3 separate regions of the Homo sapiens genome follow, and all the other regions are linked to region 2. The links come from fine-mapping of genetic effects on gene expression. Tissue or cell type: whole blood. Region 2 holds a variant in brackets; each other region holds the start of a gene. All regions are shown on one strand. Distances are between the middles of the regions.

Region 1 (5,151 bases), 56 kb after region 2:
GAGGATCCCTTGAGCCCAGGAGTTCAAGACCAGCCTGGGCAACATGGTGAGACCCCTGTCTCCACACACACACACAAATAGCCAATCAAACGAAAATTAGCCAGGTATAGTGGCACGTGCCTGTAGTCTCAGCTACTTGGGAGGCTGAGGTGGGAGACTCGTGTGAGCCCTGGGAGGTTGAGGCTGCAGTGAGCCACCATCACGCCACTGCATTCCAGGCTGGGTGACAGAATGAGACCCTGTCTCAAAAATAAAATAAAATAAAGGCAACCTGGTGTTATGCAACAAGGAAAATGTGGTCATTGTCTTAGAGAAAAAAGAGGAAAACAGACTGATGAAAATAGATATATACATAGCACTCAGTCCACTGATTCACAGAACTAGAAGGTTCTTCCATGCCAACTCCCCCACTGTAAAGATGAGAAAGCTGATGCCCAAAAAGCTAAAAAACACGCTCAACACCAGAGTACTTAGTAAGAAGGCAAACTAGGCCGGGCGCGGTGGCCCACACCTGTAATCCCAGCACTTTGGGAGGCCGAGGCAGGTGGATCACCTGAGGCCAGGAGTTGGAGACCAGCCTGGCCAACATGGTGAAACCCCATCTCTACTAAAAATACAAAATATTAGCCAGGTATGGTGGCAGGCACTTCTAATCCCAGCTACTCAGGAGGCTGAGGCAGGAGAATTGCTTGAACCAGGGAGGTGCAGGTTGCAGTGAGCTGAGATTGCGCCATTGCACTCTAGCCTGGGTGACAAGAGTGAAACTCCAACTCAAAAAAAGAAAAAAGAAAAAAAAAAGAAAGTGAACTATTTGTGGAAGATGGAGAAATATATGTAAACCTAATTATAACAATTATTAAGGGTAGATTCAGAGTAATATGGACAGAGTAGCATTTTAAGAGAAATGAGTGTGGTACAACACAACCAGACCATGCTGTCAGAACTCTTCATTCTTTGGTGCAACCCTTCACCCTCCTATAACATGTGTTTCCCACAAAGCAGTTTTTTAAAGCACAGTCTCCTGGGACCATCTCCATCAGAAGCACTTAGACTACTCACCTTAAAATGCAGATTCCTGAGCACCTCTGCAGACTTACAGCAGGAGCCCAGGAATCGATATCTTATTAAGTACCCTAGGTAATTCCAATGTATATTAAAAGGTGAGAACTACTGCCATGGAGATTTGAAATATTTTCTGGGGCTATATTTTCAACCGTAAGCATGTTAGAATTATTTAAGTTTGATCAAAATTTTAGAACACATAATAGGAAAAAATCATACATTGGTCAAGGGTTGGGATAAGCAATGTGTGAAATGACATTGTATAAAAGGTCCCTTCATATTTTTAGATTGTAATCACTGTTGGTGAACTAGACATACTCAAAAGTGGCCCTCAAGAAATAAGTTTTGTTTTGTTTTTTTTTTTTTTTTTTTTTGAGACGGAGTCTCGCCTTGTAGCCAGGCTGGAGTGCAGTGGCATGATCTTGGCTCACTGCAACCTCCGCCTCCCGGGTTCAAGCGATTCTCCAGCCTCAGCCTCCCGAGTAGCTGGGACTACAGACACGTGCCACCATGCCCAGCTAATTTTTGTATTTTCAATAGAGACGGGGTTTCACCATGTTGGCCAGGATGGTCTCGATCTCTTGACCTTGTGATCTGCCCGTCTCGGCCTCCCGAAGTGCTGGAATTACAGGCATGAGCCACCGCGCCCGGCCAAGTTTAGTTTTTTAGTTCGTTTTTTATCAGGTTTATAGCTAACTTGGAATCTGGAATCTGTGCCTGACTAGATTTACAGGGGATTTGTACAGGAAGCCCCAGAATGCACCCACCTATTTCAAGAGCATAGCAAACAGCATTCACCCAAGCATTCATCTACAGTCTGGTATTCATACACTAAGAAGCAACGTTCTTTGGGCATTACCTCCAACAGGGTAATAGCTCCAGTGAAATCTCTTTTTGAAAGTAGCTCCTCTAGTTTTGGAATCTTCCTACCTTTCTTCTTTCTTTTGTCAGTGTGCTGTACGCCTCTGCCTACAGCAGGTTTGGCCCTTGAAAGCATCTGTAAAAGAAACAAAGACAGCTGTATGGTCCAATTCTGATTATCAGATTTAAACTGAGAGTGACAGCTCTGTAATTTATAAGTCAAGGCCGGGCACAGTGGCTCATGCCTGTAATCCCAGCACTTTGAGAGGCGAAGGCGGCGGATCACGAGGTCAGGAGTTGGAGACCAGCCTGGTCAATATGGTGACACCGCATCTCTACTAAAAATACAAAAATTAGCCGGGCGTGGTGGCATGCGCCTGTAGTCCCAGCTACTCGGGAGGCTGAGGCAGAAGAAACGCTTGAACCTAGAGGCAGAGGTTGCAGTGAGCCAAGATCGCGCCACTGCACTCCAACCTGGGCGACAAAGCGAGCCTCCATCTCAAAAAAAAAAAAAAAATTATAAGTCAAATCCTTAACAACGAACCCCAGGGAAGCCTATTCAAACTCGTTTTGTAACAGGTATTCTACTAGAAGAGCCATCAGCCAATACTTAGGAAGGACCAAACAGCTACTCCCAACTTTTATCTTCTCTGGCTAGAGATGCTTTCGCATTGCTTCTGTCATCTCAGCTTTCCCTTCCTCTGCTTCCCATCCCACGAGTGGTTTAAATGTGAGTAAACGGAAAAGCAGGAGGGAAGAAAGCACCGAGGTATTTACAGTTGCATCCCTGTCCCCCGTGGGAACACAGGGAGAGCTGGGGATTACTCTCTGCGGACACACCTAGACTTCACACAGAAGTGTGCTGGGAACCTCTAATCGCCAGCCTCAGGACCTACTCAAAGTACTCCCTTACTATTCAGAGCCACTAACCATCTTGACGTCGGTCTTGTGAGTCCCCACCACACAGCGAAGGCCGCGCCTCAGCGTTTCGCCGCATCCACACAGCACGTTCTGTCTCCACGGTAACCCCGCCTGGACGCTGGTACGAACGGGAGAAAAGCTCGTTGGAGAACCAGCGCCCGCGGCTTCTTGGTTCCGTGCAGCTTCTGCCGCGGAAGAGCCGAGGTTCCTCTTGGGAGGAGAGCGTCGTTCTCTGGGCTGAGAGCGAAAGTTTGGTTGTCTCTATTTATGAGTTTACTTTAGGAAAAGGCGAATTGGAATGGCATTGTTTTTCAAATGCAAGTTTTCTGGGAAAGAAATTTTCAGGGACCACTTCTGTTTGGGGCCGTGTTGGACTCCATAGCAACCCTTGACTATGTGCACCGCAGAATCTTGGTCTCTGGCTGGTGCGGGAAGCTTAGAAAATTTCTGCTGAAGGAGTTGTAGTTCTGTGATTTGGAAGCAGGAGTGCACCAAAATACAGTTTCCTATTTCCACAGATACACCTACACACAATAGAGAACTGTAATAAATATTTGTCGATTGGATGACTTAATTTATCTATCTTACTCCTGAACCCAGTTAATACAGGGGCAACCACAGTCTTTAAATTCACGAAATCGTGGAATGTTAGAGTTGGAAGGGACCTTACAGGACCTCTGGTCAACCCCTCAGAATTAACAGACTGAAGAACTAACATCTTGTTAGTTAACTAATGTCAGCCTAAAATAACCAAAAAGCTCAGGGATCCAGTTGAAAGAGTTTATTCAAGTGCAAAGTGTGAGGGCGGCTATCCCGGGAACCACTGACAGCAAAGAATGGTGATCAGTGCTCCCTGATGCAGGGAAAGGTGAGGGTCATTTATATCACCAAAAACAGGAGTGCTGTACGTAATTACAGCATTTTCTAGATGAGGCTAACGTACACAGAAGATTCAATTCACTACTATTGATTACACTGTAAGGGGGTTGTTTAATATTCTATTGTAAAGAGGTAACAATCACAAGGGTCTCTATCTCCAACGTCATTTAGTCTGAATAAAGAATAAAAAATCTGGTTAATATATAACATCAACACAAAGATCAGGAAGCAACAGTCATGCACCAGAGAAGAAAAACAGCCATGTTCTGTGATTTAGTTTACAGGGCTTAACTTTTCCCCTTGGCATAGTACGTTTGGAAAGTGCTGAAATTTTCTTTTCACATTTTCCCCTTTTCTTCAAAAGCTTTCAGAGAAAGCATTATAGAAGAATTATATTCTCAGGCCGTGTATTTGATCAAACCTCATGTCACTAGGAAGGCCCCTTCCTGGCAGTCACATCCCAGGGAGGAGGGGAAATTGGAAAGGACCAAGTCCGAATTATAAAGCAACAAGAGAAAGTAGTTCTGGAACCTGATTCAGGCTACACGGCTGCCTCTTCAATCAAACAATTCTCTGAGTAGTCTTTGTTCTACACATTTTCTCAGCTGTGTGTTGACCCAATTGCAGATAAATACCATAACAGCTCTGCAGACAAAGGCAAGACAAAACACAAACTATGATAATTCCTAAAATACATAACAGCTTTTGCCACCAAGTTCCCCAAGATCCAAATCAATTACTTAACCAGTAGCTTAGAGAGGGTTTTGGATCCGAAAGGTTAATTATTAGAGTTTTTCAAATCAGTTATTAATTTGGTGACGTTATTTGATTCATCTGGGATATAAACACAGCATTCAGTTTCTGTCATAGCACAGATTCCTCCTTGGGCTGCAGTGAGTATGTCTAAGACCATACAGTTTTGTAATACAGTCTTCTCATGACAGTAACTTCATTATTTAATAATGAGACATTCATGTGGCTGTTATTTAGGGCCTTTTGTGTGTAATTGGTTAGGGCCTGTACATGGCAAATGACATCTTCAATACACAGTTGTGGTACAAAGACAGAAGTGAATCTAAGTGGCTTCTGGAAGGTAAGCACTTTCTATTTCTTCTGTTAAAGACACTATTGCGTAAACCTTTACAGTAAGTTCCAGATTCATCCTTTAAATAACATGCGTCTGTAAACCAAACAACATTAGCCTAAGTAAGAAAAGTCTCTTGCAGATCAGTCCTAGGAGAAAACAAGTTTATCAGTTAGAGTTATGCAATTGTGTGGTGTTTCATCTGAAAGTGAAGGAAGAAGAGTTGCAATATTTAGCTTGTTACATCTAGAGATGGTGACATGAGAAGCTAAAAGAAGTGAAACTTTCTATGAAGTTAGTCTACTCATTGAATAACGTTGAGTGTGGTTCAAGTTTAGCAATGC
Region 2 (5,135 bases):
AAGTAGATGTAACTATTGTGATATCATGCCTGTTTGCTAGCACCTTTCTGAAAGTGCACTAAGCCACAGAGGAGGAAAGCAGTCCCTTGGCTTCCGTCTACTTGGATGCATGTGATGTGTGTGGCACACATGGCAGAGCTGTGGGCATCTTGCTAGCTGTTGAGCTTTGGGATCCATTCTGATTGCTTCTCCCAAATGAGGCAGGGGGCATCTCATTTACACGGATACAAACATTCCATTGCCTTCTTTTATTGCTCAATACTTTATTCCCACTGATGATATCAATCACGTTGTTGTGTTTAGTTGTGTATACTTCTGTTAGAGTTCCTTGAGAGTCAGGCCTGTGCATTATTTATCTTTGCAGCCCAAGTACCTGGCATATGCTTAGCACACAATAAAATAATAATTCAATGGGAACTGAATATATGAGGTTAGACTTCACAAGTCACTTGCCCTACCAGTTACTGTATGTTTAATTATTCAGTCAACAAGTATGTGAGAGCTTTCTATGTGTGAGGTACTACACTATGCACTGGTCATATAACTTCTGAATGGGCTGTAATTCAGCAAAGAGCCAAGCCTAGTATGATTCAGCAGGAACTACCAGCCTCTTAGTGGAAAGGGCTTCTTGGGGAATATGTACTTTTCTCTCTTCTAAAGAGTAACTTATGGGGCCCAAAACTTTCTCTCCTTTCATTCTAGGGCTAGGAAAGAAAGGGTAGAAGGCACATGACATACTTAGGTCCCACCCTCATCACACTCAACAGAATATCATACTAAGAATCAAATAATAAACTTTAATTTGAATATAATACAGTAGAATATAATAATTATTTTGAGGTACAAAAATAATTATAAAATACTTTTCCCATTTGCAAGTAATGTATGCTATAGACTATAAATAGTACACTGATGCCAGAAACTGTACATATTTCACTACATGCCTAAGTCTGGGTCTTCCTCTCTCCTCCATCATCACATGTAAGAAAACCAGCTATGCAATACTACTTTGCAATCTTGAAACTCTGTTAAGACATTTCAGAAGTAGCTATCTTTAATAAAAGAATTAGATGGTACCTTTCTTTAAAATAGTATGTATGTTTTTTGGCTCAATCCTATAGATGAAAAAGTTTACAAAAATTAGATTTCTGCCATTTTTGGAATATCTGCTTTTTTTTCCCAAAAGACAGGAAAATGTCAGAGAGAATCTAGAGTGCTGAATTCAACACAAGCTCATTTGAAAGTAAGTCTCCATCAATGGAAAAGCTTTTTGACTATAGGCAATTTGAAAATAATAGCAATTCACTGGAAGACAAATTTCACTGCCAAAACCTGCAGACGAGTTCTCCCTGTCTTTTCTATTACTGTGTTTCCTAATATTTTAAGTGAGGTAAGAATTACAAGAGTGATTCTAAAAATTATAGCAGGTTCTACCCAGATGGGACCCATCTAGTTCCTAAGATGCTGAGAGCCATTTATTATTTAAAAAGTAGGAACAACATGAGGAAACAGAAGCTTTGGCATATGAAAAAAGATGTAGCTTTGCTTCCTAGAATTCAGTTATTTAGGCCAGTTTATTTTGATTTGTGCTCTGAACTGATTATATATGGGTCTAAAGATAAAAGACAGAAAAACTGGCCATCCTCATGAGTAGAGGTGAAATAACCCCTTGAGACAGTCCTGAAGGTGAAGGAGATCTTCAGTCATCGATCTCTTCTTGGCTGCTTCCACTCCTGCCATTTTCTCATCTCCTTTCTATACAACTCCTTCATCCACAAGTGGAGTGCTGGGATAAATGGAACAACTAATACAGTGCCTACGGGGATTTTCCTGACTTCAGTGCTTGAGGAATTCTTTCTTTCAGTTCTCTTCCCATCTATTCTCTTCTAGGTAGGGATGGCTCTGCACTTTCTAGACCTGTAACACTAGGTACCTTAAACTAATAGAAAAAAACTATATGGTGTAAAAACAAAGGTAGTATAAAACATAGAAAGATGTGGGTCTCTTTTCTGGAAATAGGTTGTGAGCTTAAGAATGCTCAGTTGTATGTTATAAGAGCTCAGAAGCCTGGGGCTGGAATATGACTTACGACAGAGAGCCTAGCCATTAGGAGATTCCCTCAAAGGACTTTATACGATTCATGTTTTATTATCGTTACATTAATAAGTGCCCACAATACATATAAATCACTGTAGCCCTACTTTCAAAACTGATGTTTGGGCCAGGCGCGGTGGCTCATGCCTGTAATCCCAGCACTTTGGGAGGCTGAGACGGGCGGATCACGAGGTCAGGAGATGGAGAGCATTGTGGCTAACACGGTGAAACCCCGTCTCTACTAAAAATACAAAAAATTAGCCGGGCGCGGTGGCGGGTGCCTGTAGTCCCAGCTACTCAGAAGGCTGAGGCAGGAGACTGGCGTGAACCCAGGAGGTGGAGCTTGCAGTGAGCCGAGATCGCACCACTGTACTCCAGCCTGGGCGACAGAGCGAGACTCCGTCTCAAAAACAACAACAACAACAACAACAACAACAACAACAAAAACTGATGTTTGTTAAGCAAGATACATTAACAAAAACCTAACCTGCTTTGTTACCTAAAATAATTATGGTACCAAACTATAATGGACTAGTGAGATTCATAAACATTGTTTCTTGAATACCTTTAGAGGTACTACAATTTTTTTCATAGTACTCACCTTTTAAAACATTGCAATACTCATCTTACTGCGCTGTAACATGTTATTATCATCAACAATTTAATTACTGAAAGAGTAATCCCATAAATCTATCCTATTAATGACTGGACAGTTTGATAAAGTAGCTTACTGCCTTTCTTAGAAACACATAGCTAGTTATTCTCCCAAGATTCAGAGATGACGTTATAAAACCCTTTATGGAATTCCCCAATAAAATGGGATAACGTACAGAGACGCCTTAAAGTTAAATGATACAATGATGCTGATTCTTGAACATCAAAGATGTTTGTTATTGCAGCCAGGAGACAATGCCATAAAATGCTAACAAAAAAAAGTTATACTGTTTTCCTTAAAGTCAGTAAATTGCATAAAAGTACTCTGAGCATTTTTGGAAGAAA[G/C]GCACCAGATAAGTCCAAAATCTTATTGCTACTAGGATCATACAGGGTCACAGACTATGGCACTCTGTTCAGCCAGGAGACTAAGTCTCAGCAAGTCAGTCTCTGACCTTGAGGCTTAAAGAGCAAGGAAGGAAAATGTCAATAAAACAGAGCCCTGTATCACAGATTAAACTGGAGTGAAAATGATTTCCAGTTTTATGTCAAAGTAGAAGCTGGTTCCTAGGACGCTGGCGCTATTTTAGATGGACACTCTGTTTTCTTTGGCCCATTTCTTCATGATCCGGATCATGTATTCTACTTGGGTGTTACCTGTGCTTCTCAGTAAATGGAGCACTTCTCGAAGGGTCTCTCTGAGGAAAAGATTTGAAAAGACAAAGTGTTTCAATGAAGAATGAAAATTAAAAAATAAAATAAACTCTGAACTGTCCTTCATACTGTATGTCTTGTAGGGCATTTTTGGTAATAGACTCTTTCACTGTGTATTCACAAAGCAATTACAAACTGCCTAGCCTTATGTTCTTATTGTGGCATAGTAAAATGGAAATTATGTGAAATCTTTCTTGCCAATCCAAGTGTTCCTTGTTTATCCATACTACCTATATACATACTGATAATCTTTTTGTCCTTTCTGAGATGACCTAACTATTCCCATTTCTATTCTTATTCTGCATGACTAGAAAGAGTATATCCAGAAGTTGGGGTTCAAGTTCTAGCTCTAACACCAGCAAGTCACTTAATTTGTCTAACTCATGGATTTCTCCCTTGTTTAAGGTGGTAACCACCTTCAACTAGGCATCATTGTCAAATTCATAAAATTTTACAAAGCCAAAGGAATAAGGGATTTTTTCAAGAAAAATAATACATGAATAAAATGGAAGAGATGGACATTAAGGACTAAGCCTAGCATTTATATTTGAAGTAATTTAAATTTAATTAAAATTAAAACATATTTTAAGTAATGAATGCTAAAATTTCCTTATTGCCCTAGCAAATCTGTAGGCGACTGCCTATGAACCTATTTGCTTAAGAGTCTTCTCATATTTTCTACTTCTTTTTCCCCACAAACAACCTCTTTCACCTAACCAAATGTTTTTAAACTTTTACTTAGAACTAGAAGTACTATAAGGTAGGAAGTAATTTTTGATAGATTATTTTCTTACAAAATTAACACATTTCCTATTCATGTATCAGTAATAAATACATTCCATGAAGTTATTTTTAGAAAATGGAATCGAGTTGTGTTTTAATGTTTGTTTCAAATGAAACTATAGGCTGGGCATGGTGGCTCATGCCTGTAATCCCAGAACTTTGGGAGGCTGAGGTGGAAGGATCACCTGAGGTCAGGAGTTTGAGACCAGCCTGGCCAACATGGTGAAACCCTGCCCCTACTAAAAATACAAAAATTAGCCAGGCATGGTGGCACGTGCCTGTAATCCCAGCTACTCAGGAGAGTGAGGCAGGAGAATCACTTGAACCCGGGAGGCAGAGGTTGCAGTGAGCTGAGATCACACCATTGCACTCCAGCCTGGGCAACAGAGCAAGACTCTATCTAAAAAAAAAAAAAAGAAAGAAAGAAAAAAAAAAAGAAAAAGTATAAACCACTGAATTTTATTAATTTTATGTAAACTAATGTCTCAGTATTTCCTAGAATATGAGAAGGTGAAAGAAAACAAAAGAGTTATCAACCACATCTACTCCATTCCTAATTTTTTGAGACCTAAACTAAAGCACACAAGAAAAAGCCAATAGGCAAAAAACAAAAAACAAACAAAAAACCCAAAAGAGTAGAAGAGTAAAAAAAAAAAACACTTTGCCTATAAAAATGGCTGTTCATTTGGAACCAAATATACATCCTGCTCTTATATTTGGAGGCTGTTAGTGTACTTAATGTATATATGACTTAGAATGATCTGATCCTATTATATATGATTTAGAATTATCTGATTCTACAAAATGAAAGATTTCTGGAGGAAAATGGTCAGACAGAAATATTTAATATCAACCTTTTTTTCATCATTCTAAAACATCATTATAATCATGTG
Region 3 (5,151 bases), 81 kb after region 2:
ATGTTGCCCAGGATGGTCATGATCCTCCCGCCTTGGCCTCCCAAAGTGTTGGGATTACAGGCACAAGCCACTGCACCTGGCCCTTAAATCATTTTTCATGGCTTCAAATTGGAGGAGATTCTATGTCTGTACTCCCAACCACTGTAGCCAAACTAGACTCTTCAGTCTCTCATCTTCTATATTCCCATTGTGGCATTTACCCATGAATTTGCTTATATTTCCATGCATTTTTTCATGTCTTCGCATACATGCTCCTTGAGTGCAGGGACTGTTTTTTAAACTTCTGCATGTCCTTACATTACTAACTAATGTAAATACCACATAGAAGATAGTCAATAAACATCTAGAACTTAGTTGATTTGATAATAAAAGGTCCCTGGGAACCTGTCAGACCACAAATAAGGCCAAGTGGATTAAAAGACAACTATAGAAGCAGCAACTAGAGGGAACAAGATGTCCCTCTTAGACATCCTAAGATGATCCTATGTGGCCCCCATGTTTGGCTGGTTTTCATAACAAAGTACTCTATTCCTGAAAGAGGGTTTATATACCATGAATGACAAAACTGAGGAGAATTCTCATTAATCATTTTGAAGAATTTCTAAGTTAGCAACCAGAATCTATTATTTTTTAAAAAGATGTATTTCTTATCTGATCAAATGACCCATCTATTTTATTTGAAGATGTTGGAAAAAAAAACCTTTTTTCTCTTCAACTTGTGTCCTGTCTTTGGGGGCCTAAAAATTAACTGGCACTAGACAGATAAATAGGAGAAAAGACAAAGTTTATTTACACATGCATGCAGGAGCTTCCAGTAACAGAAAACTCAAAAGTAAAGGTTTATATACCTCAACTTAACAAAAAGGAAAGTTTTAGGGCTTCAGTAGGAGAGTTTGGAAGTTTTGATTGGGTTGTTTTGTGTTTTTGAGACAAAGTCTCAGCGCTATCCCCCAGGCTGGAGTGCAGTGGCACAATCCCGGCTCGTTGCAGCCTCCTCCCGTGCTCAAGCAATCCTCCCACCTCAGGCTCCCGAGTAGCTGGGACTGCGGCTGCACACCACCATGCCCGGGTTGTTTTTATTATTATTATTATTATTATTATTATTATTATTATTATTATTATTGAAGAGAGCTCACTATGTTGCCCAGGCTAGTCTTGAACTCCTGGGTTCAAGCAATCCTCCCACTGCCTCGGCTTCCTAAAGCGCTGGGATTACGGGCTGAGCCACAGCACCCAGCCCATTGGGTTTTTTGGTGCTAATGGTAATGGGACAGTCTGTCTTCCTGGCAGCTGAATACTCCGAGAGGCTTTTAATGGCACCATGTTTTCGGGAGGTTTTGCTTTAGTCAGATAAGGGAAGTTTCATTAAGATTTCTTTCTACATCTTCTGTAGCTCAATGTTTTCACTTAAAAACAATCTTTATGTCAACTCTGGGGGTCAAAGTACGTCCCCACGGTGGAAAAGTTCTTGTCCCAATCTCTACGGGGAGGAACCGATCTGAAATCTTGGGATATGTCTTAGCATGTCCACCGTGATTGAGGTACAAGCAGTGGTTCAGGGCACCGAGTTAGCGATTCTAGGTAAGCAAGACCATGTCAAGAAGTGGTTTGTCCAAAAGTTCGTGAGAAGGCAGAAACGAGGGAGAGTGGCAATCGTTGTTCTTTAAGAGGGCACGGTGGTGGAGGAGAAACTTGCACATCGGGGCCTGGGGTACCACGATCTGGGGCCTGGGGACGCGATTTGGGGAAACTCGGTGGCATCTGGGCTCCGCTTGATGCCAGTGCGTGTTCGTGCAAGTTACTTCCTCAAGTTCAGGGTGAGGATAATAATATCTACCATGTGGAGTTGCTGGGAAGATTCACTACCAACAGAGGCAGAGCGCACGGCTCGCAGGAAGCGCTCGCTAGGGTCTGCTCTTTCCGGGAATGGGTGGGGTGCGCACTCCTCAACAGGGCTCTCAGGACTTGCGTCACACGCCTCAGTCGGCTGGCTTATAAAACACCGGCCAGAGCCCCAAGATCGCTTTTAGTTTCTCTTCTTTCTAAAGAAGGCTCGCGGAGCCCGGCTGGAGAACCTCACCCTCGCCGAGCCTAGAACCGAGAGGGGGCCACCCCAGGCGGTCACCAGCAGATTTGCCCGCGCGTTCTCTTTCTTTCCACCCAGTTGCCCTTGCGGCCGGCTGTAAACCTGCCACTAGGACCCGGTCGGTGAGATCTAGCCTCTTGACCTGAGAGCCGAGAGTGGATCGCTGGGCTGGGCTAACGGCGACGGAGAGCGCGCCCTCGCTGACTCCGGGCGCGCCCAGCAGTAGCACCGCCCGCGCCCGCCCCTGGACACTTGTAAGTTTCGATTTCCGATTTCCGCGGAACCGAGTCCCGCGCCGCGGCAGAGCCAGCACAGCCAGCGCGCCATGGCGGACCCGGAGGTGTGCTGCTTCATCACCAAAATCCTGTGCGCCCACGGGGGCCGCATGGCCCTGGACGCGCTGCTCCAGGAGATCGCGCTGTCTGAGCCGCAGCTCTGTGAGGTGCTGCAGGTGGCCGGGCCCGACCGCTTTGTGGTGTTGGAGACCGGCGGCGAGGCCGGGATCACCCGATCGGTGGTGGCCACCACTCGAGCCCGGGTCTGCCGTCGCAAGTACTGCCAGAGACCCTGCGATAACCTGCATCTCTGCAAACTCAACTTGCTGGGCCGGTGCAACTATTCGCAGTCCGAGCGGTGAGTGCACCCGGAGGGAGGGGCGCTGTCCGCAGCCGTGGTCGGGGTGGACTGTCCAGGCGGGCAATGTTCTGGGAGGGGCACGGCTTCGCCGGGACCCCGCACCTGACAGCCTCCGCCTCCAGCCACTCCCTTCTCTGCTCCCCTCTGGGAGCCTCTGCAGGGCCCGCGCTTCTACCTTTGCAGTTCCCTTCCTTCCGGCACCTCCAGACATTTTCTCGAGAATGGCTAAAATGCTAGTGCCTGGAGGAGACCAGGCTCAACCTCCACCCCTTTCCCCGCCCGCCCGCACGAATCAGAAGAATAAAGTGCTCTGGAGCCAGCCAGGGCCTAGAGAAGCGGTAGGCAGGTTTGGGAAGGAAGGAAAGAGCCTCCCGTCTTTGGTATCTTGAGTCTTTCCCTCCCTACTACCTCCTTCCCTAGACGTGGCGGAGCCAGTAACCCAGCCGCCCTGGGCCCCCGGTCCGTCTCCGCCGGAGCGAGCCGCAGGTCTCTCTGCTTGTCCCTCCCTTCCCGGTCACCCCCATGCCCCTCATCACCGCTTTTCTGATGCCTGGCGCGTAGCAGGGGTGGCCCTTTTCCAGGTTCCTGAAGTTGTAGCAGCCGCGGGCCTTCCCTCCGGGTGGTCTCTCTACGGTGGCGCGCGCAGTTGACCGCCTGCCTTGGGACAACTCTCTTAAATCCCTTTGAAGCAGTGTGGCTCACGTCTCGGGCCACTGCTTCTGTTGTTTCCGTTTGCCTTTTTTTTTTTTCGTCTAAATGCAGATGCGCTGCAAGGTTTGGGTTAAGACTCTTGAGTGATTTTCTTCCCAGTTTCTCCCTAAGAGAGCTTGCTCCCTCGAGGACAGCTGCACATCTAAAAAGATGGCTTCCAGGTCCACATTCGCTGCCCAGGCCTTTCCCTTGATCCCAAGCCCTTCCTCTCCCGCGTGTGTCCTGTCCATGGAGTCAAACTCATCTTTTCCCCCAGGCAGGGTTTTAATCCTCCTCACAATCTGTCATCACCAAGTCCTTTTTGTGAAGTCTCTTTCCCTTCTTGGCGGATTCTGCCTTCCCATCTAATTTCTGAATGAACTGAATGAACGCCTTGTTGAATTAATGAATGGCCAGTCTTTCCTCCCACCCTTTCTGTCACTATGTGCTCTGCTCAATTACTTTTCTCGATACAGTACTTTTTACACTTGGCCCATTCTTAAACACTTTGACTTGTGTCCCAGGGTTTAAAATGGTTGTCAGCAAACTTTTTAGGCTGGAGTGCAGTGGCTCCACCTCGGTTCACTGCAACCTCCACCTCCCAGGTTCAAGCGATTCTCCTGCCTCAGCCTCCCGAGTAGCTGGGATTACAGGCATGCACCATCGCACCCGGCCAATTTTTGTATTTTTAGTAGAGACAGGGTTTCACCATGTTGGCCAGGCTGGTCTCGAACTCCTGACCTCAGGTGATCCACTTGTCTCAGCCTCCCAAAGTGCTGGGATTACAGGCATAAGCCACCAAGTCCGACCAGTCGGCAAACTTTTGATCACGCACCTAACAAAAACTCCAGTCACTCACCCCCAATATACGTGTAATAAAACACACAAAGGTAAGTGTTTTAGATGGATGAGGTAGAGGACGCAATGTATTTTTTTAAAAATTTCTTTAGAGCAAAAACCCTTTCAGCTCACTCTAACGTTTTTAAAAAGTGCTTGAATGTGTTCCTTTATTTAAAATTTTCTTTAATATGTTGTGGGGCAACAATTTGAAGGTTGTTTCTGAGTTGCTGGGAGTTATGGGTATCGAGGAAATCATCTAAGTCATTGCTGGTCACTGAAGAAATCTCTGAGAAGGAGAAGAGAGCAGAGGGTGGAGGATAGAAAAGGAAGGAACATTCTAGCATGTTCTAGCACTACACCAAATAACATGGTTGGAAGGCTTTGTTATGTTTTTTCTGTTCTTATCTTTTCTATTATGACAAATTCTTCACCAACTAGTGTTGATTTTTAGTATGAAATACATATGCTTTTTATTTTTTTATTTCTTACTATGGATATTTTCAACATACTCAAAAGTAGAGAGAAAAAAATGATGAAGCCCCTTGTACCCATCATTTCAACAGTTTTGAAAATATGGCCAGTTTTGTTTCATTTATTCTCCCTATTCCCCATGTGTCCCCAACTCCAATGTGTTATTTTAAAGCAAATCTCAGCAACCATTTGATTACTAAGTACTTTAGTATCTCTAAAACATAAGAACTATGTTTTATTAACATAATACAGTACAATGATCACATTTTTGTAAAAAAAATTACAATTTTAATATCATCTATTGTCCAGTTGGTATTCAAATTTCCCTGATTGTCTTATAAATCCAACTTTTATTTTCAGGGAAAAGGATACATAGACATAATCCTTTTAAAAAAAGATTTTTTTAAAATTTTTTGAGATAGGGTCAC

What was found. PIP is the estimated chance that this variant, and not a neighbour inherited with it, causes the effect.
Region 1: it holds the start of IFT56, and the variant in region 2 is fine-mapped to the expression of IFT56 in whole blood (INTERVAL, PIP above 0.99).
Region 3: it holds the start of ZC3HAV1, and the variant in region 2 is fine-mapped to the expression of ZC3HAV1 in whole blood (INTERVAL, PIP 0.91).

The regions. Positions count from the first base shown.
Region 1 is chr7:139,131,563-139,136,713 of GRCh38, reverse strand. IFT56 (intraflagellar transport 56) reads right to left here and starts at 2,936. Exons shown (of 18, transcript NM_024926.4): 1 at 2,854-2,936; 2 at 1,922-2,059. The coding sequence starts at 2,856. RefSeq lists enhancers at 2,920-3,099, 2,817-3,111.
Region 2 is chr7:139,187,629-139,192,763 of GRCh38, reverse strand. IFT56 (intraflagellar transport 56) reads right to left here. Exons shown (of 18, transcript NM_024926.4): 18 at 778-3,443. The coding sequence ends at 3,332. Among named protein-coding and RNA genes, the nearest start is that of UBN2, 41 kb to the left of the region's middle. The variant G/C (reference allele first, on the strand shown) is at 3,094.
Region 3 is chr7:139,106,592-139,111,742 of GRCh38, reverse strand. ZC3HAV1 (zinc finger CCCH-type containing, antiviral 1) reads left to right here and starts at 2,023. Exons shown (of 13, transcript NM_020119.4): 1 at 2,023-2,719. The coding sequence starts at 2,412. RefSeq lists enhancers at 1,915-2,074, 1,867-2,370, 2,315-2,414, 2,995-3,124.